Linked DNA regions of Homo sapiens. Each later gene encodes a partner of the first gene's protein in a complex. Each region holds a gene or a part of one and is shown in the gene's direction. Other genes may lie near its edges.

The links.
Region 2: PRPF8 (region 1) and LSM8 share a complex: the UniProt entries of both Homo sapiens proteins name them as parts of the U4/U6-U5 tri-snRNP complex.
Region 3: the proteins of PRPF8 (region 1) and SNRNP200 are in contact, whole or in part, in a cryo-EM structure (PDB 7OS2), measured with the Homo sapiens proteins. Residues at the interface, in NP_006436.3 of Homo sapiens: Trp2073, Arg2074, Ala2077, Ile2078, Ala2081, His2084, Asn2109, Lys2113, Tyr2168, Glu2171, Met2172, Arg2266, Leu2268, Gly2269, Phe2270, Gln2276, Arg2287, Leu2298, Ala2299, Asn2300, Glu2303, Glu2307, Arg2310, Pro2311, His2313, Phe2314, Leu2315, Asn2316, Phe2317, Ala2318; in NP_054733.2 of Homo sapiens: Pro543, Met544, Arg545, Ser546, Thr570, Gly571, Thr589, Glu591, Lys592, Ile595, Arg624, Arg728, Lys729, Glu773, His786, Ala787, Thr814, Glu837, Tyr992, Thr1008, Ser1010, Ile1012, Leu1041, Glu1042, Arg1043, Val1044, Pro1045, Ile1046, Pro1047, Val1048.
Region 4: PRPF8 (region 1) and PPIH share a complex: the UniProt entries of both Homo sapiens proteins name them as parts of the U4/U6-U5 tri-snRNP complex.

What each region holds. Positions count from the first base shown.
Region 1 is NC_000017.11:1,660,818-1,667,936, reverse strand, and holds part of PRPF8 (pre-mRNA-processing-splicing factor 8), read left to right. Parts: intron 1-5,783; coding exon 5,784-6,031; intron 6,032-6,146; coding exon 6,147-6,326; intron 6,327-6,530; coding exon 6,531-6,666; intron 6,667-6,774; coding exon 6,775-6,944; intron 6,945-7,109; coding exon 7,110-7,119. UniProt on the Homo sapiens protein: Plays a role in pre-mRNA splicing as core component of precatalytic, catalytic and postcatalytic spliceosomal complexes, both of the predominant U2-type spliceosome and the minor U12-type spliceosome.
Region 2 is NC_000007.14:118,187,094-118,194,212, forward strand, and holds part of LSM8 (LSM8 homolog, U6 small nuclear RNA associated), read left to right. Parts: intron 1-1,184; coding exon 1,185-1,312; intron 1,313-4,818; coding exon 4,819-4,909; 3' UTR 4,910-7,119. UniProt on the Homo sapiens protein: Plays a role in pre-mRNA splicing as component of the U4/U6-U5 tri-snRNP complex that is involved in spliceosome assembly, and as component of the precatalytic spliceosome (spliceosome B complex).
Region 3 is NC_000002.12:96,274,521-96,281,639, reverse strand, and holds part of SNRNP200 (U5 small nuclear ribonucleoprotein 200 kDa helicase), read left to right. Parts: intron 1-2,080; coding exon 2,081-2,189; intron 2,190-2,641; coding exon 2,642-2,831; intron 2,832-2,928; coding exon 2,929-3,093; intron 3,094-3,281; coding exon 3,282-3,403; intron 3,404-3,689; coding exon 3,690-3,833; intron 3,834-3,924; coding exon 3,925-4,101; intron 4,102-4,398; coding exon 4,399-4,559; intron 4,560-4,654; coding exon 4,655-4,736; intron 4,737-6,290; coding exon 6,291-6,383; intron 6,384-6,484; coding exon 6,485-6,628; 3' UTR 6,629-7,119. UniProt on the Homo sapiens protein: Catalyzes the ATP-dependent unwinding of U4/U6 RNA duplices, an essential step in the assembly of a catalytically active spliceosome. Plays a role in pre-mRNA splicing as a core component of precatalytic, catalytic and postcatalytic spliceosomal complexes.
Region 4 is NC_000001.11:42,653,973-42,661,509, forward strand, and holds the start of PPIH (peptidyl-prolyl cis-trans isomerase H), read left to right. Parts: upstream 1-4,450; 5' UTR 4,451-4,474; coding exon 4,475-4,540; exon of another isoform or gene 4,541-4,871; coding exon 4,872-4,936; exon of another isoform or gene 4,937-5,255; coding exon 5,256-5,279; exon of another isoform or gene 5,280-5,372; coding exon of another isoform or gene 5,373-5,398; exon of another isoform or gene 5,399-5,549; coding exon 5,550-5,594; exon of another isoform or gene 5,595-5,654; intron 5,655-6,889; coding exon 6,890-6,932; intron 6,933-7,537. Other genes in the region: CCDC30 (coiled-coil domain-containing protein 30), read left to right, coding at 1-56. UniProt on the Homo sapiens protein: PPIase that catalyzes the cis-trans isomerization of proline imidic peptide bonds in oligopeptides and may therefore assist protein folding. Participates in pre-mRNA splicing.

The sequences.
Region 1 (7,119 bases):
GGAAGCCGAGGTGGGAGGACTGCTTGAGCCCAGGAATTTGAGACCAGCTTAGGCAACATAGCAAGATCCTGTTTATATTTAAAAATAAATAAATAGGCCGGGTGCGGTGGCTCACGCCTGTAATCCCAGCACTTTGGGAGGCCGAGGTAGGTGGATCACGAGGTCAGGAGTTCAGGACCAGCCTGGCCAATATGGTGAAACCCCATCTCTACTAAAAATACAAAAATTAGCCAGGCGTGGTGGCACATGTCTGTAGTCCCAGCTACTCTGGAGACTGAAGCAGGAGAACCACTTGAGCCCCGGAGGTGGAGGTTGCGGTGAGCTGAGATTGCGCCACTGCACTCCAGCCTGGGTGACAAAGTGAGACTCCATCTCAAAAAAAAAAAAAAAAAAAAAAAGCTATGTCATGGGCAAGTTCTATAACTTGTTTTTTATGAAGACATAAGAGGTATAACATATATAAATTTCTTACCATGGTACCTAGTACACGTAGACCTGAGTAAATATTATTTTCCTTCTTGCCTCCCCTTATCCCCCAGGAATTTCTGCTATTTAGTAAAGGAACACTGGGCTCCTCAGGAATTTATGCCTCCTCCCCTTCAGGGATAGAGCACTGTTAACTACAACAGAAATACTGTGTTCCATTACACACATCAGCAATTCCAAGTGCAGTCCAAGAATTTACTAAACCTAATGGGAATCATCCACTTGCCTTTACCCCAGTATCTAGCCTATCCTGGCCCCTGGCCCTCCTTTTTTTTTTTGAGAGGGAGTCTTGCTCTATTGCCCAGGCTGGAGTGCAGTGGCACAATTTCAGCTCACTGCGACCCCCGCCTCCCGGGTTTAAGTAATTCTCCTGCCTCAGCCTCCTGAGTAGCTGGGATTACAGGTGCCTGCCACCATGCCCGGCTAATTTTTGTATTTTTAGTAGAGACAGGGTTTCACCATGTTGGTCAGGCTGGTCTCAAACTCCTGACCTCATGATCCAACCGCCTCGGCCTCCCAAAGTGCTGGGATTACAGGCATGAGCCACCGCACCCGGCCCCCCTCCTTTCTGTAGATCTGCCTGGTTGTCTCATCCTGTGGACATGCGAGATGCTCAGTCTAGCTTTCATAGTAGGGTTTGAGCTGTTATCTCACCTGCAGTCTTTTCTCCTTGCTTGTCTGAATACCATTTGCTCAAGGCAGATTACTATAGTAACTCCAGCCAACGCACTCTTTCACCTCAATAATTGTTCAGAAGACATTTTTTGCCTTAAAGTCTTGACTATATCATTTGGTATTTTGTGGTTTGCTATCTTGTTTTATTCAGCTTTTCAAAGAAACAGCTTTGGTTTCATTAATTTTTATCGTTTTTCTCTTTTTTGTTGCATTGATTTTTTTTTTTTTTGAGATGGGGTCTCTATGACCCAGGTTGGTGTGCAGTGTCGCAGTCTCAGCTCACTGTAACCTCTGCCTCCCAGGCTCAGGAGACCCTCCCACCTTAGCCTCCCAAGTAGCTGGGACCACAGGCACATGCCACCATGCCTGGCTGATTTTTCTTTGTATTTTGGATACAGACAGTTTCGCCATGTTGCCCAGGCTGGTCTTGAATTCCTGAGCTCAGGTAATCCACCCCCCTGGGCTCCCAAAGTGCTGGGATTGTAGGTGTGAGCCACCACGCCTGGCCTTGTTGCATTGATTTCTTCTCTTATCATTGCCATCCCTTTGCTAGTTTGTTAAGGTAAAAGGTTAGATTATCAATTTTGGACCTTTCTCTTTTTTTTTTTTTGAGACAGAGTCTCGCCCTGTCACTCAGGTTGGAGTGCAGTGGCGCGATCTCTGCTCACTGCAAGCTCCGTCTCCCGGGTTCACGCCATTCTCCTGCTTCAGCTCCCAAGTAGCTGGGACTACAGGTGCCCACCACCACACCCGGCTAATATTTTTTTTTGTATTTTTACTACGACGCGGTTTCACCGTGTTTGCGAGGATGGTCTCGATCTCCTGACCACCACCTGATCAGCTTGCCTCGGCCTCCCAAAGTGTTGGGATTATAGGTGTGAGCCACCGCACCTGGCCTGGACCTTTCTCTTTTTCTTTTTTTTTTTTTTTGAGATGGAGTCTCACTCTCTCACCCAGGCTGGAGTGCAGTGGCGCGATCTCAGCTCACTGCAACCTCCGCCCTCTGAGTTCAAGCGATTCTCCTGCCTCAGTCTCCCGAGTAGCTAGGATTACAGATGCCTGCCACCGCACCCGGCTAATTTTTTTGTGTGTTTTTAGTAGAGACAGGGTTTCACCATCTTGGCCAGGCTGGTCTTGAACTCTTGACCTCGTGATCCACCTGCCTCGTCCTCCCAAAGTGCTGGGATTACAGGCGTGAGCCACCGTGCCCAGCTGACCTTTCTCGTTTTTTTTTGTTTGAGACGGAGTCTTGCTCTGTCGCCCAGGCTGGAGTGCAGTGGCGCAATCTTGGCTCACTGCAACTTCCGCCTCCTGGGTTTGTGTCATTCTCCTGCCTCAGCCTCCTGAGTAGCTGGGACTATAGTCGCCTGCCACCATGCTCAGCTAATTTTTTGTATTTGTAGTAGAGACGGGTTTCACCGTGTTAGCTGGGATGGTCTTGATCTCCTGACCTCGTGATCCACCCACCTCAGCCTCCCAAAGTGCTGGGATTACAGGGGTGAGCCACCGTGCCTGGCCAACCTTTCTCTTTTTCTAATAGTATTATTCACTTCTGTAAATTTTCCTCTCAGCATTGCTTTAGCTGCATTCCTCCCTTTTTTTTTTTTTTTTTTTTTGAGGCAGAGTCTCACATTTTCGCCCGGGCTAGAGTGCAGTGGCACGATCTCGGCTCACTGCAACCTCCGCCTACCCTGTTCAAGCGATTCTCCTGCCTCAGCCTCCCAAGTAGCTGGGATTACAGGTGCCCGCCACCACACCCAGCTAATTTTTTTTTGTATTTTTAGTAGAGACAGGTTTTTACCATGTTGGCCAGGCTGGTCTTGAACTCGTGACCTCGTGATTCACCCGCCTTGGCTTCCCAAAGTGCTGGGCTTACAGATATGAGCCATCGTGCCCGGCCCCATTCCTCACATTTTAATATGTTGTGTTTTCATTTTTATTTAGTTAAAAGTATATTCTAATTTCCCTTATGAGTTCATATTTCACCTTAGGTTGTTTCAAATTATGCTGTTTACATATTTGGGGGTTTCCCTTATTAGTTTCTGCTTTGATTCCATTATGATTAGGAAACATGTTGTATATGATCTTAGTTTTAAAAAATGTATCAAGATTTTTTTTTTAATAATTAATTCATTTAGAGGTGGGATCTCACTCTTGCCTAGGTTGGACCCAAACTCCTGGGCGCAAGCGATCCTCCTGCCTCAGCCTTCCAAAGAGTTGGGATTACGGGCATGAGCTACTGCACCTGGCTGAGGCTGACTTTTTGATGTCCTAGCGTACAGTCTCTCTTGGTGCCTGTCCTATGTGTGCTGGAAAATATCTGTTAATCTGTATTCTGCTATTGTTAGGTTGAGTGTTTTACAAACATTAGGTCCAGTCAGTTGGTTACATTGCTTAAGTCTTCTATATCCTTAGTGATATTTTTTGTATACTTCTATCGATTACTGAGGAGTATTAGAAATCTCTAGTAATCCCAGCAGTTTGGGAGGCTGAGGCTGGTGGATTGCTTGAGCACAGGAGTTCGAGACCAGCCTGGGCAACATAGCGAAACCCCATTTCTACAAAAAAAATACAAAAATTAGCTGGGTGTGGTGGTACACGCCTGTAGTCCCAGGTGCTTGGGAGGCTGAGGCGGGAGAGTCTCCTGAGCCTGGGAGGTGGAGGCTGCAATGAGTGGAGATGGTGCCATTGCACTCTAGCCTGGGCAACAGAGCAAGACCCTGTCTTGCTTGAGAGAAAGATCCAACTACAGCTGTGAGTTTATTGTCTTTCAGGTCCATCATTTTTGAAATTCTGTTATTAGTTACATAATGTATTTAGGATTATTAGGTCTTCTGAACGAGTTGACTACTTTATCGTATCAAATATCCCTCTGTATTCCTGATAACATTCCATGGTCTGAAGTCTTTGTCTTAATCAGTAGTGCCACTCCAGCTTTGTTTTGTGTTTGCATGGGTGTATTTTTCCATCTTTTTACTGTTAATCTGTGTCTTTGTAACTAAAGTTTATTTCCTATAGACAGCATATAGTTGGCTCTTTTTTTTTTTTTTTTTTTTTTTTTTTTTGAGATGGAGTCTCTTCCTTGGTTGCCCAGGCTGGAGTGCAGTGGCATGATCTTGGCTCAGTGCAACCTCTGCCTCCCGAGTTCAAGCGATTCTTCTACCTCAGCCTCCCAAGAAACTGAGACTACAGGCGCGTGCCACCACGCTCAGCTAATTTTTGTATTTTTAGTAGAGACGGGGGGTCTCACCATGCTGTCCAGGCTGGTTTCGAACTCCTGACCCCGAGGCCCGCCTCAGCCTCCCAGAGTGCTGGGATTACAGGTGTGAGCCACCATGCCCGGCCTTTTTATTTAAATCCAATTTGACAATGTTTGCCTTACAAATGGTCTAAATACCTCAATTAAGGTTAATGTAACTATCAATGTGGCAATGTAGCTCAGTTTAAATCTACCGTCTTACTCTTTTTTTTTTAAATTATTTTTTCTGCTTTTCTCTTGTCCTGCCTTCTTCTGAATTTAGTTGTTTTGTGACTTTATCTCCACTTTTCACTTATTTGGCTACATGGTTTTTTTCTTATTGTTTGCTCTAAGGTTTACAGTATATACATAGCTCACTTACTGTGATCTACTTTGACCATTAGTCTACTACGGATCACTTCACATATAGTACAAGAACCTTAGAATAATACACTTTAAGTTCCACTCCCACTCTTAGTAGTATTTTTGTCATAACATTTTAATTGTACATGTATTATAAGTGCTATAATACTTTGTTACTCTTTTTGCTTTGAACAGCCTTTATCTTTTGTAGAAATTGCAAAATGAGAAAAAATATTTTTTTGCATTTTACCCACATACTTACCATTTCTGGTGTTCTTCACTAGTTTGTATAGCTCCATCTGGTGTGCTTTTTTTTTTCTTTTTCTTTTCTTTTTTTTTTTTTTGAGACACAGTCTTGCTCTGTCTCCCAGGCTGGAGTGCAGTGGTGCGATCTCAGCTCACTGCAACCTCTGCCTCCTGGGTTCAATTTCTGTATTTTTAGTAGAGACGGTTTCATGTTGGCCAGGCTGGTCTTGAACTCCTGACCTCAGGTGATCCACCCACCTCGGCCTCCCAAAGTGCTGGCATGACAGGCGTGAGCCACCACACCTGGCCCAGGGGAACCATTTTTTTTTTTTTTTCCCCTGAGATGGAGTCTCGCTGTGTTGCCCAGGCTGGAATGCAGTGGCACAATCTCAGCTCACTGCAACCTCCACCTCCCAGGTTCAAGCGATTCTCTTGCCTCAGCCTTCTGAGTAGCTGGGATTACAGGCGTCTGCCACCACACCCGGCTAATTCTTGTATTTTTAGTAGAAACAGGGTTTTGCCATGTTGGCCAGGCTGGTCTCCAACTCCCGGGCTCAAGCAGTCCTCCCACCTTGGCCTCCCAAAGTGCTGGGATTATAGGCATGAGCCATCGCGCCCAGCCTCATTGTGTTTTGCTTTCTATTTCCCTAGTGACTAATGATGTTGAACTCAAATCTTTCTTTAGTAGTAGGGATAAAACTAACTGCATCAAGTAGTCTCCACCCTCCCCGCCCCTGGCTCATCTGTAATTTACTTTTTTTTCTACTACCTTTAGATTGTGAATAAGTGGAATACAGCTCTCATTGGCCTTATGACATACTTTCGGGAGGCTGTGGTGAACACCCAAGAGCTCTTGGACTTACTGGTGAAGTGTGAGAACAAAATCCAGACACGTATCAAGATTGGACTCAACTCCAAGATGCCAAGTCGGTTCCCCCCGGTTGTGTTCTACACCCCTAAGGAGTTGGGTGGACTCGGCATGCTCTCAATGGGCCATGTGCTCATCCCCCAATCCGACCTCAGGTACAGCCTGGTTCAACGTATTTCTAAACCCTATTGCTCAGGCCCTAAGGGAAGTGGGTATTTCTTTAGTTTTAGGCTTTATTTTTTCTGTAATCTTGGTTGTACACCCAAACAGGTGGTCCAAACAGACAGATGTAGGTATCACACACTTTCGTTCAGGAATGAGCCATGAAGAAGACCAGCTCATTCCCAACTTGTACCGCTACATACAGCCATGGGAGAGCGAGTTCATTGATTCTCAGCGGGTCTGGGCTGAGTACGCACTCAAGAGGCAAGAGGCCATTGCTCAGAACAGGTGGGCACCTAGGAGGGCATGCCAACCCTGGGGCAGGGGCAGTGGTGGCCTTTGAACCGTGTGGAGTTCAGGGTCAGAGCATGCCATGGTTGTATGGAGGTGAGAAGGCTGGTTCTACTGACCCTAATTATTTTTGGCCAGGAAGGAGTGCTGAGCTCCTCATATGAGATCACGTTTTGACTTGAATCTTTCTTTTTTTGGAAGACGCCTGACTTTAGAAGACCTAGAAGATTCATGGGATCGTGGCATTCCTCGAATCAATACCCTCTTCCAGAAGGACCGGCACACACTGGCTTATGATAAGGGCTGGCGTGTCAGAACTGACTTTAAGCAGTATCAGGTATGTAGAGGGAGCAGATTTTCCCTGAGTCAGGAAAATCCATGGCTATCCCCGAAACTTGGGGCAATAGGCACCCAGAAGCTTGACCGTGCCTGCCTTGCCATCTAGGTTTTGAAGCAGAATCCGTTCTGGTGGACACACCAGCGGCATGATGGGAAGCTCTGGAACCTGAACAACTACCGTACAGACATGATCCAGGCCCTGGGCGGTGTGGAAGGCATTCTGGAACACACACTCTTTAAGGGCACTTACTTCCCTACCTGGGAGGGGCTTTTCTGGTGAGGATTCTCCTCTCTTAGAGGGACCTGTCACAACCCTTTGAGCTCATCTCTTGTATGCCTCTGTGATTTCCTGTGGTGTTTCCCAGACAGCCACCTCCAGGAGGTTAGCAGTGTGCTGGGAAATGGCAGGATATCACCTCACCTGCTTCTCTTGCTCCCCAGGGAGAAGGCC
Region 2 (7,119 bases), on another chromosome or scaffold:
AATGGATGTTTATGATAACAACCATTTGCTAACTAGTTCAATAAATACTCCATATTTTGTTTCTCTTCCAAGTTACAGATTTCATTCTCATTTTATTTCATTCTCTTTTTTATTTCATTCTCATTTTATATATTTTGACTTTCAGAAGATAAAACAGTTTAAGAACTTGAGAGGTTTAACCATCAAAACCAATGTTAGTTGATATTTCTTCAGAAACTTGAATACCATGTGAGTTACTCTGTTATGCTAGACCCATGTCTTCTTTTATTCAATACTAAGCTTTCATAAAACTCTCCCTGATTATTTCCTTCAAGTTCTGGTTTTAATTAGTATAGTCACATTTGTATCTACCTTACTGGGAGAATTAAACAATAAATCCATATGATACACATTAAACAATACATGTGAGACACACAGAACACTGGTAACTAGTATGTACTCATTAGGTGTTACATGTAACTACTAGTTAAATTTTTAGTATATTTATGGGACTGATTTGAATCTGAAAAATGGCAAATTATATTTACTTGTGTATAATAGTATAGAATGTTATGGTTTAGTGGTCTGGCTCAGGAGCTAGCCTTTTGTGGTTCATCTCCTGGCTCTGCCACTTACTACCCATGTGATCATAAGACACACCATTCTGTGCCTCAGTTTCTTCTTTGAAATGGGGCTAATTATAGTACTAAATCAAAGGGTAGAGATGAGTTGAGAAAATGTGTACAGTGTGTTTAGCACACTGCCTAGTGCTGGCATATAGCATATAGTGATACTATTACATTGCTGTAGTTGGTATGTATGGTTCTTCCTTATTTATGTATATTTGGCTATCATTTTCCCTTAAATATCCTTTGTCTTAGTTTATACCTTTAGCTGCTGGTCTACATAAGCTTTTATGCTACTTACTTGGAGATAGTCACATTAGTACATAGGTGTCCTTTGCAACTGCTGTCAACTCTACATATGAGTGAGATGTGTGGTGCAGGTCCCCCCACCCCAGCCAAATAACCAAGAGGTAAATTGTGTACCCTCGAATACTGTTGGTTATAAAAAAGGCATTTTATTTGCCGTCGTATAGGTACTTGTATTGGAATACCTGGCAACTAAAATGACTGTGAGGTTAAATTTACACTTTCAGGTAAACCAGAATATTTCTCTTTTTCTCCTGAATATTTTCTTTACAGGGAACACTGAAAGGTTTTGACCAGACCATTAATTTGATTTTGGATGAAAGCCATGAACGAGTATTCAGCTCTTCACAGGGGGTAGAACAAGTGGTACTAGGATTATACATTGTAAGAGGTGACAACGTGTAAGTAAAATATATCTGTTAAAATTATAAATGATACTGCCTTACTTTATGGAGAAGAGGCTTTCCCCAAAATACCCTACTGTATTGTCCATACATAGTTAATAGAATCTTGCATTCATTTCTTTCGTAAATATACCTTTTCTTATGTTTGTGTAAAATAAGGCATATGTATACATTTTATGTCAGCACTTCTTTAGGTTTCAACCAAAGCTGTCTCTCTACAAATTAAACTTTTACCTGAGATTTGCCCATTTTTCTACTAGTTAAGTAGCCTGGGTAGAGTCCAGAAAGGGCTCTGCCTTATATTAAATACTTCATTAGAGAGACTTCTTAAAACGTTCTTTCAAATACCCAGAATTTTAGAGGAACATATTTCTAGAGTCCAAGGCCAAAGTTTGAAAAATGTTTTGAAATCTCTGATTTGAACAATATTAATTCATGCTCAATAACATAGGTGTATTTATAAATAAGTACTTACTCGTTATTCATTTTCTTTTAATTTTTTAGTATCATTGACACACTTAAGATGTCCCTGTGGCCTCAGTTTACTTGGGACAGACAGATATAAAAGTTCAAGAGTAATTGGCCAGGCATGGTGCCTGTAATCCCAGCACTTTGGGAGTCTGAGGCAAGTGGATCAGGTCAGGAGTTCAAGACCGGCCTCGCCAACATGGCAAAACACTGTCTCTACTAAAAATACAAAAATTAGCCAGGCTTGGTGGCGTGCGCCTGTAGTTCCAGCTACTTGGGAGGCTGAGGTGGGAGAATCACTTGAACCCAGGAGGTAGAGGTTGCAGTGAGCCGAGATCACCCTACTGCACTCCAGCCTGGGTGACAGATTGAGACACCAATTCAAAAAAAAAAAGGCCGGGCACAGTGGTTCAAGCATGTAATCCCAGCACTTTGGGAGGTGGAGGCGGGTGGATCACTTGAGGTCAGGAGTTCGAGACCAACTTGGCCAATGTGGTGAAACCGCGTCTTTACTAAAAATATAAAAATTAGCCAGGCGTGGTGGCGCAAGCCTGTAATCCCAGCTACTCGGGAGGCTGAGTCAGGAGAATTCGCCTGGGAGGTGGAAGTTGCAGTGAGCCGAGATCGCAGCACTGCATTCCAGCCTGGGCAACAAGAGCAAAACTCCGTGTCAAAAAATAAAAAAGAAAAGTGGCTAATGTGGTTCACGTGCCGTGGCTCATGCCTATAATCTCAGCACTTTGAGAGGCCAAGGTGGGTGGATCACCTGAGCCCAGGAGTTCAAGACCAGCCTGGCCAGCATAGTGAAACCCCGTCTCTCCTTAAAATAGAAAAATTAGCCTGGTGTGGTGGTGCATGCCTGTAATCCCAGCTACTTGGGAGGCTGAGGCAGAAGAATTTCTTGAACCTGGTAGATGGAGGTTGCAGTGAGCCAAGGTTGCGCCTTTGCACTCCAGCCTGGGCAAAAAGAGTGAAACTCCATCTTGAAAAAAAAAAGAAAAGTGGCTGATGTGACAGAGGAACTGAATTTTAAATTTTATTTAATTGTAATTAATTTTAATAGTTACATGTGGCCAGTATTAGTATAGTTATAGAGGCTAGAAGAATGCCAAATCAGTTTTCTAGTGAGTACTACACTGAATCAAAATATAGTTGGAAAGAAGCAAAAGATACATTAGCAATTTTAAGCTAGAACATTTAACAAATTCTAGGGGACTAACTGTCCCCTGGAATAACTTAAAAAGTGCAGGAATAATTTACTCATTTAAGTTGTTTATGTTAGCATCACCTTTAGATGAATAAATAATTTGATCTGTAATCAAAAATCAAGAGTTTATAAAATATTTTAGAGATGACTTTTAGGTGGAGTTACAAGGTGAGCTGTAAGTAATGAGAGAGAGACAGAGCAGATAGGGCCCAGGTCTCTGGATCAGAACAACACTGTTTATATTGGAGCTGTGCATAGTAATTGATTTTAAGGTTTCTCCTACTTAAAACAATTTTTTTTTCTTGAACTTCAGTGAAAAAAGTCTTGTGCTAGAGCCAGCTTCTACTGGCCCATGAAAGCATATTGTTATATTTTAAGGAATTTTACAAGCTGGTTAATTGATGTCTTGTTAGTAGCTTGAAATTGGCCGTGGTGGGAGTGTTTGCACAATGGATATTAGTAAATGCAGCAAATCAGTCTCCCGCTTTTTTTCCAGAGAGCTGGTTTTTAAAAATGTATCAGCATTTCCCTGCTTACCATAGGGATTTTAAATGATACTGAATATTATCATTTAAAATTTAAGAATATTTAAGAGTGGAATTGAGGCCTTTAGTTTGAGAAAACTTAATTCATTCTGCCAGAGTTTCATATTTTTCATTTATTAGATGATTTAAGACTTTATATACTTTAAAGCAAAATTTGGCAAATCCCTTATTACTAGTATTCGTCTTTAGAATTTGGCCGGGCACAGTGGCTCACACCTGTAGTCCCAGCACTTTGGGAGGCTGAGGCTGGCGAATTACCAGAGGTCAGAGGTTCGAGACCTGCCTAGCCAACGTGGTGAAACCCTGTCTCTACTAAAAATACAAAAATTAGCCGGGTGTGGTGGCATGCGCCTGTAATCCCAGCTACTCGGGAGGCTGAAGCATGAGAATCGCTTGAACCTGGTAAGTAGAGGTTGGAGTGAGTCAAGATCGTGCCACTGCACTCCAGCCTGTGCAACAAGAGCGAAACTCTATCTCAAAAAAAAAAAAAAAGAATTTACTCTCATTAAAACCAAACAAATGTAAACCCAACCAATACTTTTTAAAAATAATATTTCATAGACATCTTGTGGTCTGAGTGATAACATTGAATATTTCCAGTTAGAGGGCTATGGGTTGGTTATCTAGCGTGGTATTAATGAATTTAAAGTTATAGATACTATGTTAGTGTTGAACAAGAAAAAATTTTCTAGCTTTTAACCTGAGCCAATCACGTCAAAAATGATTTGTTAGATACCAAAGTACTTGTTCCTACTATTATTTTTGTATATGAAGAACTGGCTTTGGATTTAACTGAAAACTTAGGAAAACAATCTAATCGCTGTTGTCTATATCATTGATTTAATTCATCAAAGTTACTCAAATGATTGATATTTTTACTTGCTAATTATTTTAGGAGTGATTTTGTGAAATTTATTTTTAATACAGTCCTAGAATTGAATTGAAATATGGTTTGGAAGTTTGAGGGTTTTTTACTGTGTCTATCCTTGTGTGTCTGTTTCCTTTAAAGATTCATGATACAATCACTGTGTACAATGTGTCCTTTAATATTGGTTCCTGTAATAATGTGCCTTCAAATTATTTCTTGAGTTTTGTGACTTAAATATGCAGTTCACTGACTCACGCCAATGTTGTTTGCTTTTTACCTTAATTCTTTTTACTGTGCTCTCTCAGTTTTATTTTTTGGAAGAATGGTACTCAGTGCTTTGATTTGATTAGTAAGATTTTTGAAACACATGTAATTTATTTCAGAAATGTGATTGTTTTAACTCTGACTTTTTTAGTGCAGTCATTGGAGAAATCGATGAAGAAACAGATTCTGCGCTTGATTTGGGGAATATTCGAGCAGAACCTTTAAATTCTGTAGCACACTGAGGAAAAACTACATACTTGGACATCTGTAAATCTTTGTACAGAAACTGATTATTCTGAGGATGATATATGGAGTTTTTATGAGTGTGTCACTGGATTTTGACTCCTTATTGATTCATTGTAATATGTAAATTAAAATATTTCTACATTTTATTGAAAAAAAAACCTTTTTTTTTGCCTAAATATAAGTTTGGTAGCTTGGTTTCTTTTTTTTATTAAATAGTGTGAAAATATAATGGGCATTTTGAAAACTTTTAGAAAAAAGTAGTACTTTTTGATACTTTAGTATTTATGGAAACTAGTGGAAAAGAGAAATTAGTGTGCTATATAAATCAGGCATTCAAGTAACAGTAATACAGGATATATGTGTTTTCTTTCCCTGATGTTTAGGAAAATCACAGGAGGGTAAATCTTTGCTGGAGTTATCTGAATCATTGGCATTTATCCGATTCCACTGGTGGTAGTTTGCTAGTGCTTCTAAAAGTTGCTCCCTAGCACTGAGAGGTGTGGGTAGGTAAAAATGTGTTTGCTTGAGAAAAGCAAAAATGCTAACAAGGTTTTGATAGATTGGCCCAAAATTCTAACTTGAATATTAAGAATGACTAGGAATGGTAGAATTGACAGAGATGATTAGTAAAGTCTCTTGATGCCCAATTGGTTAGGTATGAAAGTAATATGAACACATTAATGTTGAATTTTACAGACAGTATATTTGAAAAAAATTGATTCCATGTAGTCTTCAATTTTTAATTTTTAAGAATTGGAGAATTTCTAATGTTAAAGTTAGTTTATAAATGTGAGTAAATAAACTCTAAGTTTGTATTGAAGTAGTGCTAGCTATTATTGTCAGCAATTTTCCATGATTCATTATCCATAAACCTGATTTCAGAAGACGTCAACTCAGTTTTTTAAATAATTGAAAGAAACAATGTAAGTAGTGTTTAGATATTCAGGCTAGTCCATAAAATTTCTGATCAACTCATGTATAGGCCCAAGTGTGTGTCTTTGTGATGAGAAGAACATAGAAAAATATTTACATCCTTGTAATTGAAACAAATTTAAATAGTTTATTTGTTTTGTTTTTATGAAAGTGCTTAAAAATAGTAGTTGGCAAGCTTTTTCTATGAAGATCCAGATAGTCTTTTAGGCTTTGAAGGCCATGTGGTCTGTCACAGCTACTCACCTCTGCTATTGTGGCCTACAAATAACCATAGATAATACATAAATGAATAGTGGCTGTCTTCCAGTAAAACTTCATTTATAAAAATGGAGGTGGGGGTTGGATTGGGCTTGAAGGCATAGTTGCTGACCCTTGGCTTAATACAAGTTCAATAAGAAAAAATGAACAATTTGTATAAATTCTGGAATAGATCCTTATAGAGAGTTTAGAGGTGGGTTTCATTCATATTTTAAAATATTTTAAACTTCATACTTATTAAACATAATAGCTTTTTGGGGGAGGAAAATATCTTCACTCAAATCAGCCTTATAAGGGGAGAAGCACTATTCTCTAGAATTATTTGGTTGATGTTAAGGGCTGTCTCTGGGAGAATTAGAGAAGTTAGCTAGTATTGGCTATTCATAAGTACTTGACTTGTAGTATAATGTTTTATAATCAATTTATTAATAAAATGATGGAAAGTGGGTAAGGCAAACAGGCAAATTTAGGGACTGTGAATGAAATATTGTAGTATATGGCATTTTGAATTGGTAAAGTAATTCCAAAAATTAAATAAGAATACACATTGTTCAGTTGCTAAGAAAAATGCATTCTAACAGTACAAATGAAGTCCAGAGTCAGATCTTTTCTCAAAATACTTGGCATATCAACACATTACACATAAACAAATAAAAACCAGTCCTGTCCCTCATGATAATGGGTTTCTAATGTGATGTATTCTTGCAATCTGAAACACCTTATAAAGCTGTATTTTCCTGATTGATGTTGGAAAAAGCATTCCCAAAATGTGAATTATTGTTTTTATGAATAGTTACAGAGGATGTGATGACAATATGCCAGATAATCTATGTAATTCTTTATTCCTGGATACAAGCACATGGTGGACTGTTTTCTCACAACCGATTAAAATTGGATTTATTTTTGCATGAGAATTGTAAGGGAGCCACAACCATGAGTAGTAACATAATTAATATACAGTGTCAATATTTTATATTTAATGAGACATTTATTCTATAATCAGTTCTTATTTATA
Region 3 (7,119 bases), on another chromosome or scaffold:
TTTGCTTTTTAGTCATTGTGCTTCCTTATTCAGCAGCTGGGAGAGGTAGGAAATTAGAGCCAGGAGGAATGTTTGACGTTACGTCATTAATCTCAGACATCTTGTAGATTAGGAAAAGTGACTTGGTCGAGGTCATACACCTATATAGTGACAAGTAAGAAGCTAGAGGAGTGCCGAGCGCAGTGGCTCATGCCTGTAATCCCAGCACTTTGGGAGGCTGAGGCGGGCGGATCACTTGAGGTCAGGAGTTCAAGACCAGTGTGGCTAACATAGTGAAACCCCCGTCTCTACTAAAAATAACAAAAATTAGCTGAGTGTGGTGGCAGGCGCCTGTAATCCCAGCTACTTGGGAAGCTGAGGCAGGAGAATCAGTTAAACCTGGGAGGCAGAGGCTACAGTGAGCTGAGATCCCACCATTGCACTCTAGCCTGGGCAACAGAGTGAGACTCCAACTCAAAAAAAAAAAAAAAAAAAAAGCCTGGGTGTGGTGGCTCACACCTGTAATCCCAGCACTTTGGGAGGGCAAGGTGGGCAGATCACCTGATGTCAGGAGTTCAAGACCAGCCTGGCCAACATGACAAAACCCCGTCTCTACAAAAATTAGCCAGGTTTGATGGCAGGTGCCTGTTATTCAAGCCACTCACCTGTAATTCAAGCCACTTGGGAGGCTGAGGTTGGAGAATCACTTGAACCCAGGAGGCAGAGGTTGCAGTGAGCCAAGATCGCGCCATTGCACTCCAGTCTGGGCAACAGAGTGGTACCCCGTCTCAAAAAAAAAAAAAAAAAAAAAAGGGCCAGGTGTGGTGGCTCATGCCTGTAATCCCAGCACTTTGGGAGGCCAAGGCGGGTGGATCACAAGGTCAGGAGTTCGAGACCAGTCTGGCCAATGTGGTGAAACCCTGTTTCTACTAAATATACAAAAATTAGCCTGGTGTGGTGGCACGCGCCTGTAATCCCAGCTACCTGGGAGGCTGAGGCAGGAGAATCGCTGGAACCCAGGAGGCGGAGGTTGCAGTGAGCCGAGATAGCACCACTGCACTCCAGCCTGAGCAACAGAGCGAGACTCCATCTCAAAAAAAAAGAAGTTAGAAGAGTCAGTCATTCTCATAAAAAAGCCTGCATAATTTGTTGTTGTTTTTTTTTTAAGACAATCTTGTTCTGTCGTTTAGGCTGGAATGCGGTGGTATGATCTCAGCCCACTACAGCCTCTGCCTGCCAGGCTCAAGCAATCATCCTGCCTCAGTCTCCCAAGTAGCTGGGACTACCAGCATGTGCCACCACTCCCAGCTAATTTTTCCTTTTTTTTGTATAGATGGGTTTTCACCATGTTGCCCAGGCTGGTCTTGAATTCCTGAGCTCAAGTGATCCACCCACCTCAGCCTCCCAAAGTGCTGGGATTACAGGTGTGAGTTATAGTGCCTGGCCCAACGCTTAATAACTTTTTCCTGAAATGCAGATTAGTTTGAAATGAATTTTATTTACGGGTTCATTTTTAATGTTTGAACCTGCTTCTAGGTAGGGTTAAAGTTGGGTGACTTGATGACTCACGAAATACACAACTATGAAGTTTGGAAAGTGTGGTGGTATGCACCTGTAGTCCCACCTGCTCTGGAGGCTAAAGTGAGAGGATCACTTGAGCCTAGGAGGTAAAGGCTGCAGTGAGCCGTGGCTGTGCCACTGCACTCCAGTATGGACAGCAGAGCAAGACCCTGTATCAAAAAACAAATAAAAACAATAATAATTTTTTTTAATTAAAGGAGAAAAGTTTGGGAAGTTTGACTTACATATTTGATCCTCGAATAGGGAGTTATTTTGGTTTTGGCATTAGATAGTTTTGTAGCTTGGTTCATGGCACTTGAGCAGCAAATTCATGGCCCTTACACTGAATACTAAAATGTTATACAGGCCAGCCAGTGAAGCTAGTTGTAAGTGCAGAGATTCATAAACAGAGTCGTCCCGTGATTTGTCCGTGTCTCCCCGTATTAACATTTTACTCTTACTTGGCGAAGGGAGTTGGGCTTCCTGAGCATGGTCTCCGTGTTGAGGTGGCTTTTCCTTCTTTCCCTGCTTCTGTCACCAGCTATGTGGATTACCCCATCTATGACGTGCTTCAGATGGTGGGCCACGCCAACCGCCCTTTGCAGGACGATGAGGGGCGCTGTGTCATCATGTGTCAGGGCTCCAAGAAGGTCAGTCCTAGACTCATGGAGCCTCTTGGATCCGTAGCCTCAGAATGGATTCTTTAATCTTTCTTTTGATAGATGTCTTCAGTAACTTTAGTCTCTTAACTTCTGCCTCTCTTATTTACACAATTCTTTTGTGACGAGCCTGCCACCCACATGGAATTTTGCTGCCTTTTGCTTTTGCTGCTGCCGTTGGCTCCACGTGTTGAGGTCTTCACCCTCTACTTGGTTCTCTCCTTCCTCCTTGGGCTGCTCACTGCTCTGCCCTCGTGACTTGCTGTACCTCTGTTCCCACTGCGTATTGTCACCAGTGATGCACTTTCTAAATGTGTGGCTTCTTCCATTTTGGTATTAGTTAGGTCTCACACAGGGACCATGCCCTGTTGATTTGCCCTTGGCCCTCTGTGACCGTGTTGTCACTAATTCTTTATTACTCCTTCTCCCTCTCCAACCCACAGGATTTCTTCAAGAAGTTCTTATATGAGCCATTGCCAGTAGAATCTCACCTGGACCACTGTATGCATGACCACTTCAATGCTGAGATCGTCACCAAGACCATTGAGAACAAGCAGGATGCTGTGGACTACCTCACCTGGACCTTTCTGTACCGCCGCATGACACAGAACCCCAATTACTACAACCTGCAGGGTCAGTGGGCTTGGGAGCACACGTGATCCTTTGGTGGTTCTCACAGTCTTTGCTGGGCATCTTCTTGAGGCTCCCCACTCACCTCTCGCCTCCATAGGCATCTCCCATCGTCACTTGTCGGACCACTTGTCAGAGCTGGTGGAGCAGACCCTGAGTGACCTGGAGCAGTCCAAGTGCATCAGCATCGAGGACGAGATGGACGTGGCGCCTCTGAACCTAGGCATGATCGCCGCCTACTATTACATCAACTACACCACCATTGGTGAGGCCCGGCATGGCCCGTGTCCTGTCTGTGGGAGCCTTTTTACACGGGTCAGGAGCCCACTGGGATGAGAGGTGCGCCCGTGTTTGTCAGCGGGATGACACTGCAGGGGACAGCAGGGGAGCCCGGGCAGTTCTGCTCCTTCTCTGCCTGGTTTTAGCTTCTCTCACATTTCCTTTTTCTGTCAGAGCTCTTCAGCATGTCCCTCAATGCCAAGACCAAGGTGCGAGGGCTTATCGAGATCATCTCCAATGCAGCAGAGTATGAGAACATTCCCATCCGGCACCATGAAGACAATCTCCTGAGGCAGGTGAGGACAGCAGACTTCAGGAGAGCATCCTGGGAACAACAAACTCGGCCTGTGTGCCCAGAGCACATGGCATCCCTGCCACCAACACGCCCATACGCATCCCCCGACCCCCGCCATATGTCCTCCCGCTCCATACCTCCCTCAAACCCATCTCCATCCCATTACCACCCACATGCCTCAGGGTGTTGAAGGGCTGTGTGAGCCTGGGCCACGTGGTGCTTTGGCCTGAGCTGGTCTCAGGCAGGGTCACCTGTTCATCACCAGCTATTTTTCTTCCACTTTGTAGTTGGCTCAGAAGGTCCCCCACAAGCTGAATAACCCTAAGTTCAATGATCCGCACGTCAAGACCAACCTGCTCCTGCAGGCTCACTTGTCTCGCATGCAGCTGAGTGCTGAGTTGCAGTCAGATACGGAGGAAATCCTTAGTAAGGTAGAGTGTGGGTGTGGGGCAGAGGGGTCAGTGGTGCTCTAAACATCTCAGCTCCAACTCCGCCCACTTTTATACTCCTTTTCCTGTTCAGGCAATCCGGCTCATCCAGGCCTGCGTGGATGTCCTTTCCAGCAATGGGTGGCTCAGCCCTGCTCTGGCAGCTATGGAACTGGCCCAGATGGTCACCCAAGCCATGTGGTCCAAGGACTCATACCTGAAGCAGCTGCCACACTTCACCTCTGAGCATATCAAACGTTGCACAGACAAGGTGAGCCGGGTCAGCCTAGAGGGTCAGGTGGGTGAGCCTGAGAGCCCAGTGTTGTGGACCGAGCGTGGGTTGCGGGAGGTGAGTCTCAGTAAGTTAAACTTTTAGTTATGGTTCCTCCGAAGGTGCTCCCTGTTGAGATGCTAGAGAGCCTGCCAACTGTGGGCTGTGTTCTTTCTGCAGCTGTTTTATCTAGATGACTTGATAGTGTAGGAGGTAAAATTAGTAGCTCTTTGCTGCCTGTGTCATTTGCTGTTGGCCCGTGTTCTCTCTTTCCTGACGTCTGAATACTCACTGCAGGGAGTGGAGAGTGTTTTCGACATCATGGAGATGGAGGATGAAGAACGGAACGCGTTGCTTCAGCTGACTGACAGCCAGATTGCAGATGTGGCTCGCTTTTGTAACCGCTACCCTAATATCGAACTATCTTATGAGGTGGTAGATAAGGACAGCATCCGCAGGTGAGCCAGAGGTGGTGCCTGTTGGGCACAGCATAATAGTGTGCTCTGAGCCCACTGCCCCATCACTGACGTGCGCCCCTCCTCTCCCCCTGCAGTGGCGGGCCAGTTGTGGTGCTGGTGCAGCTGGAGCGAGAGGAGGAAGTCACAGGCCCTGTCATTGCGCCTCTCTTCCCGCAGGTGCGTCCTGGTAGCTGGCTTGGTCAGGTGTCAACTCACCCTATCCATTGGCTAGGTGCTTGGTACAAGGGCACACTGTCCCTGAGGGAGGGAAACTTTAGACTGATAATCAGCTCACAAGGGTGAGAATTAATCTTGAGGCTATGGGGTTTTTTTTCTGTTTGTTTCTGCTTAAACAGTTTAGGGCCGGGCGCAGTGGCTCACGCCTGTAATCCCAGCACTTTGGGAGGCCAAGGCGGGCGGATCACGAGGTCAGGAGTTCGAGACCAGCCTGGCCAACATAGTGAAACCCCGTCTCTACTAAAAATACAAAAATTAGCTGTGCGTGGTGGTGGGCACCTGTAGTCCCAGCTACTCAGGAGGTTGAGTCAGGAGAATGGTGTGAACCCAGGAGGCGGAGGCTGCAGCGAGCCGAGATTGCCCCACTGCACACCAGCCCAGGCGAGTGTGAGACTTCATCTCAAAAAAAAAAAAAAAAAAAAATTTAGATGACTGGTCATTGTTAAACCCGTCAGTTGTGTAGTATTGTCCATCTCTCTGACTCTTTAAGATGCATTTGTCTTTAACTCCGATGGCTGCAGGACACTTGGGCTTTCCTGGTTGTTTCTTCTTTTTTCTCACTGCCACTTACTGTGCTTCTGGGTGCTTGGTTTTTTACCACCAGAAAGAAATTCTGGTTCTCTTTATATGGGAGAATAATTGAAGGTTGATAGCAGAAACCAGATACTGTCATGTTTAATTCTGTAAACTAATTGTTTCAAGGCTCTGAGTAAAGACTGCTTTTAACTGGGACTCTTCGTCTTTGTGACAGCGGGGCAGCCCGTAGACAGGGCTGCAAGGCCTGCTGTGGATATCTCTGTGCACATTCAGCTCTGTGTTAAGCTTTTTCTTTTTTTTTGAGACGGAGTCTCGCTCTGTCGCCCAGGCTGGACTGCAGTGGCGCGATCTCGGCTCACTGCAAGCTCCGCCTCCCGGAATCACGCCATCCTCCTGCCTCAGCCTCCCGAGTAGCTGGGACTACAGGCACCCGCCACCATGCCCGGCTAATTTCTTTTTTGTATTTTTGGTAGAGACGGAGTTTCACCATGTTAGCCAGTATGGTCTCGATCTCCTGGCCTCGTGATCCACCCGCCTCGGCCTCCCAAAGTGCTGGGATTACAGGCGTGAGCCACCGCGCCCAGCCTAAGCTTTTTCTCATCTGGCAGATTTGCCTTGTACTTAAAAGTATCTCTAAGGAACTCAAAGCTCCTAGGCCCCAAAGACTAGACCTCTAATAGTAGTACCTTGGACTTAGTGGCAGGTACTAAGTGGGAGAAGGTACCTTGGCACAAGGAAATGAGCCAGAACCAACAAATGAATTCATCTACTTAAAAAATTAAGTCTGTTTGAGACAACTTTTGATAGTATTAAAATGTTAAATCTAATTGTATTTCGGGAAGAAACTTTGGAAAGCTATCTGATTTTTGTTCTCTCTTTTGTAACTGTACCATTTTCATGGTTGCCTATGGTCATCAAGTTTTACATGCTGAAATTCTTGGTTTTGGATCACTGCAGAAACGTGAAGAGGGCTGGTGGGTGGTGATTGGAGATGCCAAGTCCAATAGCCTCATCTCCATCAAGAGGCTGACCTTGCAGCAGAAGGCCAAGGTGAGTGTGTCCACTGGCCCTAGCATTTGTTCTGGCATGGGGGAAGGGTGAGAATGCTTCCTGTGTCCATGCTCATCTTGATTTCTGCCTGCTCTTTCTAGGTGAAGTTGGACTTTGTGGCCCCAGCCACTGGTGCCCACAACTACACTCTGTACTTCATGAGTGACGCTTACATGGGATGTGACCAGGAGTACAAATTCAGCGTGGATGTGAAAGAAGCTGAGACAGACAGTGATTCAGATTGAGTCCTGAGGCATTTACTTTTGGGTAAAGGAGAGTTGAGCCTGAATTAGGAATGTGTACATTGTAGGAATCCTGGTTGTGGGGACCAGGTCTGTGGGCCTCAGGTCTGGCCAGCCAGGGCTGGTGCTGTCCCCGCCTACCTCCACTTCCTTTCCCTTGCTCACTCTGGATCCAGTGACAGCAGGTGTCATGGGTCAAGCATAAATCATATATAGCATTTTCAGGCATGTTCCTGGTAGTTCTTTTGAGTCTGACATTCTAATAAAATAATTTGTAGAAACCATTTGTCTTTGTAGTGATTCCAAATTAAAAGTTTTCTTTCTCCAACCTGAGGGCACGGCCAAAAAGATCTGGTTATTTTTTAGCCAGGAACGTGCTTGTTAATGAGTATGTCTGGAGGACAGACCTGCTCATTAGGTGTGCTGTCCCCTGTAGCCTCGTGAGTCAGCCCAGAGGAGGGTACATGCGACTGTGGCCTGGCCTCAGTGGTACC
Region 4 (7,537 bases), on another chromosome or scaffold:
CTTCTCTGAAGGAGACACATGGTATACAAGAACAAGACCAAAAGTCAGAACTATAAAATCACTGGTGCCTAAAGCTATACTGAACAAAAGTGGTAATTTAAAGCCTGGACAAAAGGTGGACCATGACATTGAGAAGAGTTACCACAGATCCCAAATGGATATCACCCAAGAGTCTTCAAAACTGCTGATAAATTCATTAAAGCAGTTGTAAAAATGGATTTCTCAAGTTTGTTTGATATCCTCAGATGCCTTGTATTGACCAAAATATTGACTTTAGTTCAATGATTTATTTAGGTTTCTCTTCAGCAGAGCACATGTAGGGTTAATTCAACATTCTTTCCCATTATCATGGGTATCTTTTCTGATTTATTTTTTAACAGTAAAAACAATACAGTCACATTAAAGCAAATTTTGTTTTTAAAAAAACCCTCCTATGCTGGGCGTGGTGGCTCACGCCTATAATCCCAGCACTTTGGGAGGCTGAGGTGGGTGGATCACGAGGTCAGGAGATCGAGACCATCCTGGCTAACACGGTGAAACCCTGTCTCTACTAAAAATACAAAAAAATTAACCGAGTGTGGTGGCGGGTGCCTGTAGTCCCAGCTACTCAGAAGGCTGAGGCAGGAGAATGGCGTGAACCTGCGATAGCACCACTGCACTCCAGCCTGGGTGACAGAGTGAGACTCCGTCTCAAAAAAAGCAAAAAACAAAAACAAAAACCCTCCTATAATACCATAAGCTTTTTTTTTTTTTTTTGAGACGGAGTCTCTTACTCTGTCACCCAGGCTGAAGTGCAGTGGCATGATCTCCGCTCACTGCAACCTCTGCCTCCCAGGTTCAACCAATTCTCCTGCCTCAGCCTCCCAAGTAGCTGGGATTATAGGTGCCCGCCACCATGCCCAGCTAATTTTTGTATTTTTAGTAGAGACAAGGTTTCACCATGTTGGCCATGCTGGTCTTGAACTCCTGACCTCAGGTGATCCACCCACCTCAGCCTCCCAAAGTGCTGGGATTACACCAATACCACAGTCTTAACACAACTAATTTTATTTTACAGTTATTCCCTTTTGGTCCTAATTCAAGTACATATATTCTAAGTGGTTATTATAATATTGTATATTCATTTTCACAGTTTGATTTTTAATTTACTGTATATACCATGGAAACATTTTCAATCGCCATATGATATTCAATCATGTTGATGTTCTATAATTATTTTTATGGGAAAAGTTTTAAATGTTTAATGAAGAAGATTTAGAGCAATACATTATTTAAAAGTGGATAGGAGGTTGGGCGTGGTGGCTTACACCTGTGATCCCAGCACTTTGGGAGGCCGAGGTGGGCAGATCACCTGAGGTCAGGAGTTCGAGACCAGCTTGGCCAACTTAGGGAAACCCCGTCTCTAACAAAAATACAAAAACAATTAGCCAGGTGTGGTAGTGCGCGCGCCTGTAGTCCCAGCTACTGGGGAGGCTGAGGCAGGAGAATCACTTGAACCCGAGAGGCAGAGGTTGCAGTGAGCCGAGACTGCACCAGTGCACTCCAGCCTGGGTGACAGAGCAAGACTCCATCTCGAAAAAATAAATAAAATAAAATAAAATAAAAGTGGATAGGAAAATACCAAGAGCTTTTCCTGGGGGAGGGGGTATGAGAAGAGAGTTCACATAAACCCCATTACACAGAAACTACCCCTAAATATTTCCAAACAGGAGTACAAAGTAGGTGAACAGTCTCCAGCTCATCTTTAGTGTAGTGGGACTGCTTCTTCAGAAAAGATCAGCAACATTCACATCCATTTCATCTATCAGGGTGGAACAGTACTGCTCAGTATCTCTGAGGATGTGGATGTTCTATAAATTAAACGTTCTCTTGTTTGGCATTTAAGCTGTTTTTACTTTTTTTTTTTTTTTTTTTTTTTTGAGACAGGGTCTCACTTTGTAACCCAGGCTGGAGTGCAGTGGTTTGATTACTGCTCATGCAGCCTCAACCTCCCATGCTTAAGTGATCCTCTCTCCTCAGCCTCTCCCAAGTACAGGCATGTGCTACCATGCCTGGCTCATTTTTGTACTTTTTGTAAAGACGAGGTCTCACTCTCACTCTATTGTTCAAGCTGGTCTCAAATTTCTGGGCTCAAGTGATCCTCCCACCTAAGCCTCCTAGGTGATAGGATTATAGGATGAGCCTCTATGCCAGGCCTGGTTTTACTTTGTTACTATTTAAGATTATGCTGTGTTGAAGGTCTTTGTGCATGTAGTTCTTTTCTTCTTTTGAATTACTCCAGAAAACAAATTCGCAAGATTGGACTGAGTCAAAGGATATAAATGTTAATATTGCTCTAGGACATCACTTCCTTTGCTTTAAAAAAGGGTTCTGCCTGACCAGGTGCGGTGGCTCACGCCTATAATCCCAGCATTTTGGGAGGCCGAGGCAGGTGGATCACTTGAGGCCAGGAGTTCAAGACCAGCCAGGCCAACATGGCAAAGCCCTGTCTCTACTAAAAATACAAAAATTAGCCGGGTATGGTGGTGCACACCTGTAGTCCCTGCTATGCGGGAGGCTGAGGCTCGAGAATCACCTGAACCCAAGAGGTAGAAGTTTCAGTGAGCTGAGACCACTCCACTGTACTCCAGCCTGGGCAAAAAGTGAGACTCTGTCTCAAAAAATAATAATAATAAATACATAAATAATAAAATAAATAAAAAGTGTGTCAACATACTGTTTTCATAGTCAAGTTACTCAACCTCCTTGAGCCTCAATTTCTTGATTCCTAAAATGGGAACAATAATAGTTCTCTATCCCATAGGGTTGTGAGGACCAAATGAAATGAAGCATGTAAAGTATTTAGCACGTAGTAACTGCTTAATAAATGCTATCATCATTTATTTTCACTAGAGGTTTATCAATGTACTATTTTTTTCACAACCTCATCAACATTGGATATTATCAATTTTAAAGATTTATTCTAAAACAGTTGGTATAAAATTATACTGAAGCGTGACTGCTGCTGTTCCTTTTCCCCCTCCTCCCCTTTCTTCTTTTTCAGTTGGAGGAGACCAAGAGGAGAGGATCAGTAACCAGAAATAAAAATGACCCTTTACATTGAGACACACTGTATTTTTATATGTAATCCTTGCTTTCTCAGACAACAGAGCTAGAAAGATGATCATAGGAACTAGGAAATAATAACTATTTTATTAAATGCATGCTGTTATATTGAATGAGCCTTGCCCAAGGTCCCCTTCTTTCACTAAATTCATTGCATCTATTATTTATTGAATACCTACTATATGCTATTCAGTAGGCGACATTGCAGCTACAGCTGCGAATAGGACCAGGAGAGTCTCTACTTTCATGGAGTTTATATGCTATCAGGGAGGAAGATTATGTGTGTGTGGCAGGAAATGAGGTGTAGACACATACCATACGAAGATAATGTGGAAGTGGGGGTGGCATGAAGAAAACAAACCAGTGATCTGAATGACCAAGGGCTACTTTAGATTAGGTCTAATGTTGCCTCTCAGGAGGTAACATCTGGGGTGAGCCCTGAACTACAAGGAGCATTACTTCCCACACGCATACCCCAACCAACCCCCACAATCCCCCGCCAACCCACATTAAGTTCTGGAAGGAATATTTCAGACAGAAGTAACAGCTATTACAAAGCCCTAAAGAGAGGAGGGATCTCAGTGACCTGGAGGAACAGACAGGTCAGAGCACAGTAACTAAGGGCAAGTGGTACAAGATGAGGTCAGGTACGTGATAGCCAGATAAATGCACTGTAGGGCTTCGTATGCACGGAATTGGATTTTATTCTAAATATGGGAAGCCAGGAGTTATTTTTAAAATAAATAGGAAGCACAAGAGTTATTTTAAAAATAAAAAATAAAAAACTCTAGTTGCTTTATGGGAAATGAATTGGAAATGACAAAACTGGTAGCTTTTGTGGCAGAACAAACATTATCTATTGTCCTGACTTAGAGGAAGGGATATTTACTTAGCAAGCCTGTACGTGCCAAGCTGTTCTAAACGCTGAGGATGAACAAACCAGAGTTCCTGCCTTCACGGTGTTCACACTAGCGGGCAGAAGACAGACAGCACGTGTGGCGGTGCAGAGGGCTTGGCTGCAAGAGCCGATAAGGAGGACCCTGGCGACTGCCTAGTCCAAAAGTCCTAGCTAGAGCAAGATCAACTTGTACTGCCCTTAGTACAGCCACGTGAGTGGGGTGACCATTGACCTTAACCAAAAAGATGTCAAGGCTTTCCTCCTCCTCACTCCCGCGTCCCCAGTGCCAGGCAGAGTCTCTCAGCTAGACCCTAGCAGTCTCAGCACACACCGCACGGGGCGACAGCTTCCGGGGGCGGAGCCTGGTCTCGCTCCACGTCTACCGCGCCTGCTCCCCGGACGAAATCCGCGGACCGGGCTTTAGGTTCGCCGGAATCCCACGCTCCCGACTTCTGCTTCCGGGTCGGAGCCATGGCGGTGGCAAATTCAAGTCCTGTTAACCCCGTGGTGTTCTTTGATGTCAGTATTGGCGGTCAGGTGAGATCCAGGAGGCTGCCCACACCTGCGCCGAAGGGAAACTGCTCGGGGCTAGGCAGGCAGAACTCACCCAGAGAGAGCGGACTCGGGAAGCCAGCCAGAAAGTGAAATTGCACCCGAACCTACCGACCTGCCGGGCGGGGGGAAAGGAGGAGGAGGAGTCTCCCCAATCCTAGCGCCCCGCTTCTGGAGGAACTGGGCGGTTAGACTAGGGAGGCGGAGGTGGGAGATACCGAGCGGCAGGGTGGTGGGTCAGCCCATCATGCCCCCTGCTCCGTGAAGCCCTCATGGTCTTGGACTGGGCCTTCTGACACTCTCCCGCTGATTGCAGGAAGTTGGCCGCATGAAGATCGAGCTCTTTGCAGACGTTGTGCCTAAGACGGCCGAGAACTTTAGGTAAGGACGTGCTCCAGCTCCGCTGGATTAGCTGAGGCAGAAGTCGGGCTCCAGTCAGCCGCCTGAAATAGCCTGTCTACCTCTGTCCGTCCGCTCACTGCTCTTGAGACCTGATTCCTCCATGCATTGCTCTGTCTGGTTGCCGTTTGGATTGTTCCCGTGTTAATTTACGTTGTTAGTCTGTGTGACTGCGTGTCTGGACGTCTGGCTGGCCGATTGGTGGACTTGCTGGCTCCAGTGTTTATTCTTTCCCGTATTTAGAGGCGCTCACGACTGTGACATCATAGTGATTGAATCATTCATTTTTTGTCCCTTTCAGGCAGTTCTGCACCGGAGAATTCAGGTCAGTTTCAGATGTGTTTGACTTCTTTGCCTGCTCCAGAGGGGTGTTCTGGGGCTGCAGTGAGGGTATCGGTGAACCACCTGCTGGCCTTGAATGATTGCTGGTGACAGTGATAGAAGGTAATGCCCCAAGGGTCTGTCCCTAGTTTATTTGCCTTCTTTATGTCTGTCAACCATCTTTAGGAGAGTCCTTTTGGCTCCAGTGCATGGTAAACTGGAAAGGCCTTGTGCTACCTGCTGTCACTCCAAGTCTCTTTCTTTTCGGTTATAGGAAAGATGGGGTTCCAATAGGATACAAAGGAAGCACCTTCCACAGGTAAGGCTCTTGGCAAGCCATCCTGGAGTCTTTCAGAAATATTTCCTGGGGGATTAGGCTCTTTAGAGGAAAATAAAACCAGAGGGTAATTCTTACATTTCTTGAGAAGAAATGTTTTTGTGGACTCAACAACTGAAGATTTATTAAATGTTCTAACTCTACTTACACTCCCCCACTTCTTAGGTCTTTAAAACAGAAACTACTCATCTTTACAATATCTTGTCTTTTTCATGCACTTGTTTGTGCGAATGCAGATTTTTTAAAAAGTACACTTGTAATCCTAAAGTGCATATAATATATCCTGCTGGTTGATATTTATAACTAATTCCTAAAATGATCATATATGATTGTCCAAGGATAATCATATTTCCTGGGGAGTGGAGTATGTCAACACTTAGTCTCATTTCAATATAGAATCTTTCTCATGGCCTCACTGTGGTTAGTAACAATGTTAGCACATAATTATATCACAGCTTTAGAGCTTTGGGTCTCTAATCCCCAGTAAGACTCCTGTGAAGTGGTATGGGTGATCTGCATTCTACAGAGGAGGAAACTGAGGATAAGAAAGGTTAAGGACCCTCCCTAGGGGTAATAGCTAACAGTTGTTAAGCCCTTACATGTTTAGCAGTACATTTCACATAAATTCTCTGTAGTTCTTTCCCCCAAATTTACATCAAACCCTTGCTCTGCCTTTTGCTTTGGCAAGTAAGCTTTCAGCCCCTTCTTCTTATTACTGTTCAGGTACCAGATCATGCACTTGATCAACTCTAACATGCCCTAATTTATAACGAAAATCCTTTTTTATGGTTAATTATCCTTTCAGCTTAATCATTCAGGAAAAGAATAATCTTCAGGTTTTTTTTGTTTTGTTTTGTTTTTTTGAGACAGAGTCCCACTCTGTCGCCCAGGCTAAAGTGCAGTGGCATGATCTTGGCTCACTGCAACCTCCGCCTCCTGGGTTCAAGCAATTCTTCTGCCTCAGCCTCCCGAGTAGCCAGGACTACAGGCATGTGCCACCACGCTCGGCTAATTTTTGTATTTTTAGTAGAGACGGGGTTTTGCCATGTTGGCCAGGCTGGTCTCAAACTCCTGGCCTCATGTGATCTGCCTGCCTCGGCCTCCCAAACTGCTGGGATTACAGGCGTGAGCTACCGCACCCAGCTAAGAGTAATGATTTTATAATAGCCAAAGTGATAGTGTATTTTGAAATCAACGTTAATCTAATACAATAATAACAACATCTATGTTTTTCTAAACCATAAAATCTTCTCAGTATTCTTTGCTCTCTGTTTCAGGGTCATAAAGGATTTCATGATTCAGGGTGGAGATTTTGTTAATGTAAGTACTATTCCTTTCCTATCAAAGACCCGTAGTTTTAGTTTTTGTTGTTATTGTTGCAATTGCTGTTTTTACTACAGAGACCCAGTCTTCAGGCTTGAGAACAATAGCCAGGTTTGATGTGGGTGTTGGAGAGAATGGTGATGGGGAAGTTCTTGAAAGTGGCTGGGTACGACTGACTGTAGATAACCGACTTTAGCACTTTGATTGAGGCATTAAATTCCATGGTCCAAATCTCAGCCTTTTTGAGCCAGAAATTGGACTTTTTAAGAATACCTATAGATGATCTATGATAGGTTCACACTAATTAGTCATATGAAACTTAGTCAGAAATCAGCTGTGGTTTTTGTTTTTTTCTGAATGGAGGTAAGTCTCCTTCTAGTGGGCTAAATGCTTGTTTCATTTTCTCTTTTACTTCTGGGTGTCACAGTGCCTGGAAAGCTGAGTTTTTCATAAGAAGTTGATTTGTGGGCAAGGAATCAGAGCAAGAGAGGTAGATAGTTCTGGAGGAATTTTGCTCTATTCACTGAGAGAGCCCAGTGAAATAGTTCTTTTTTGCTAACCATAGCTTTCTTGTAAGTAGACTGTTTTTGTCCCCCATATGA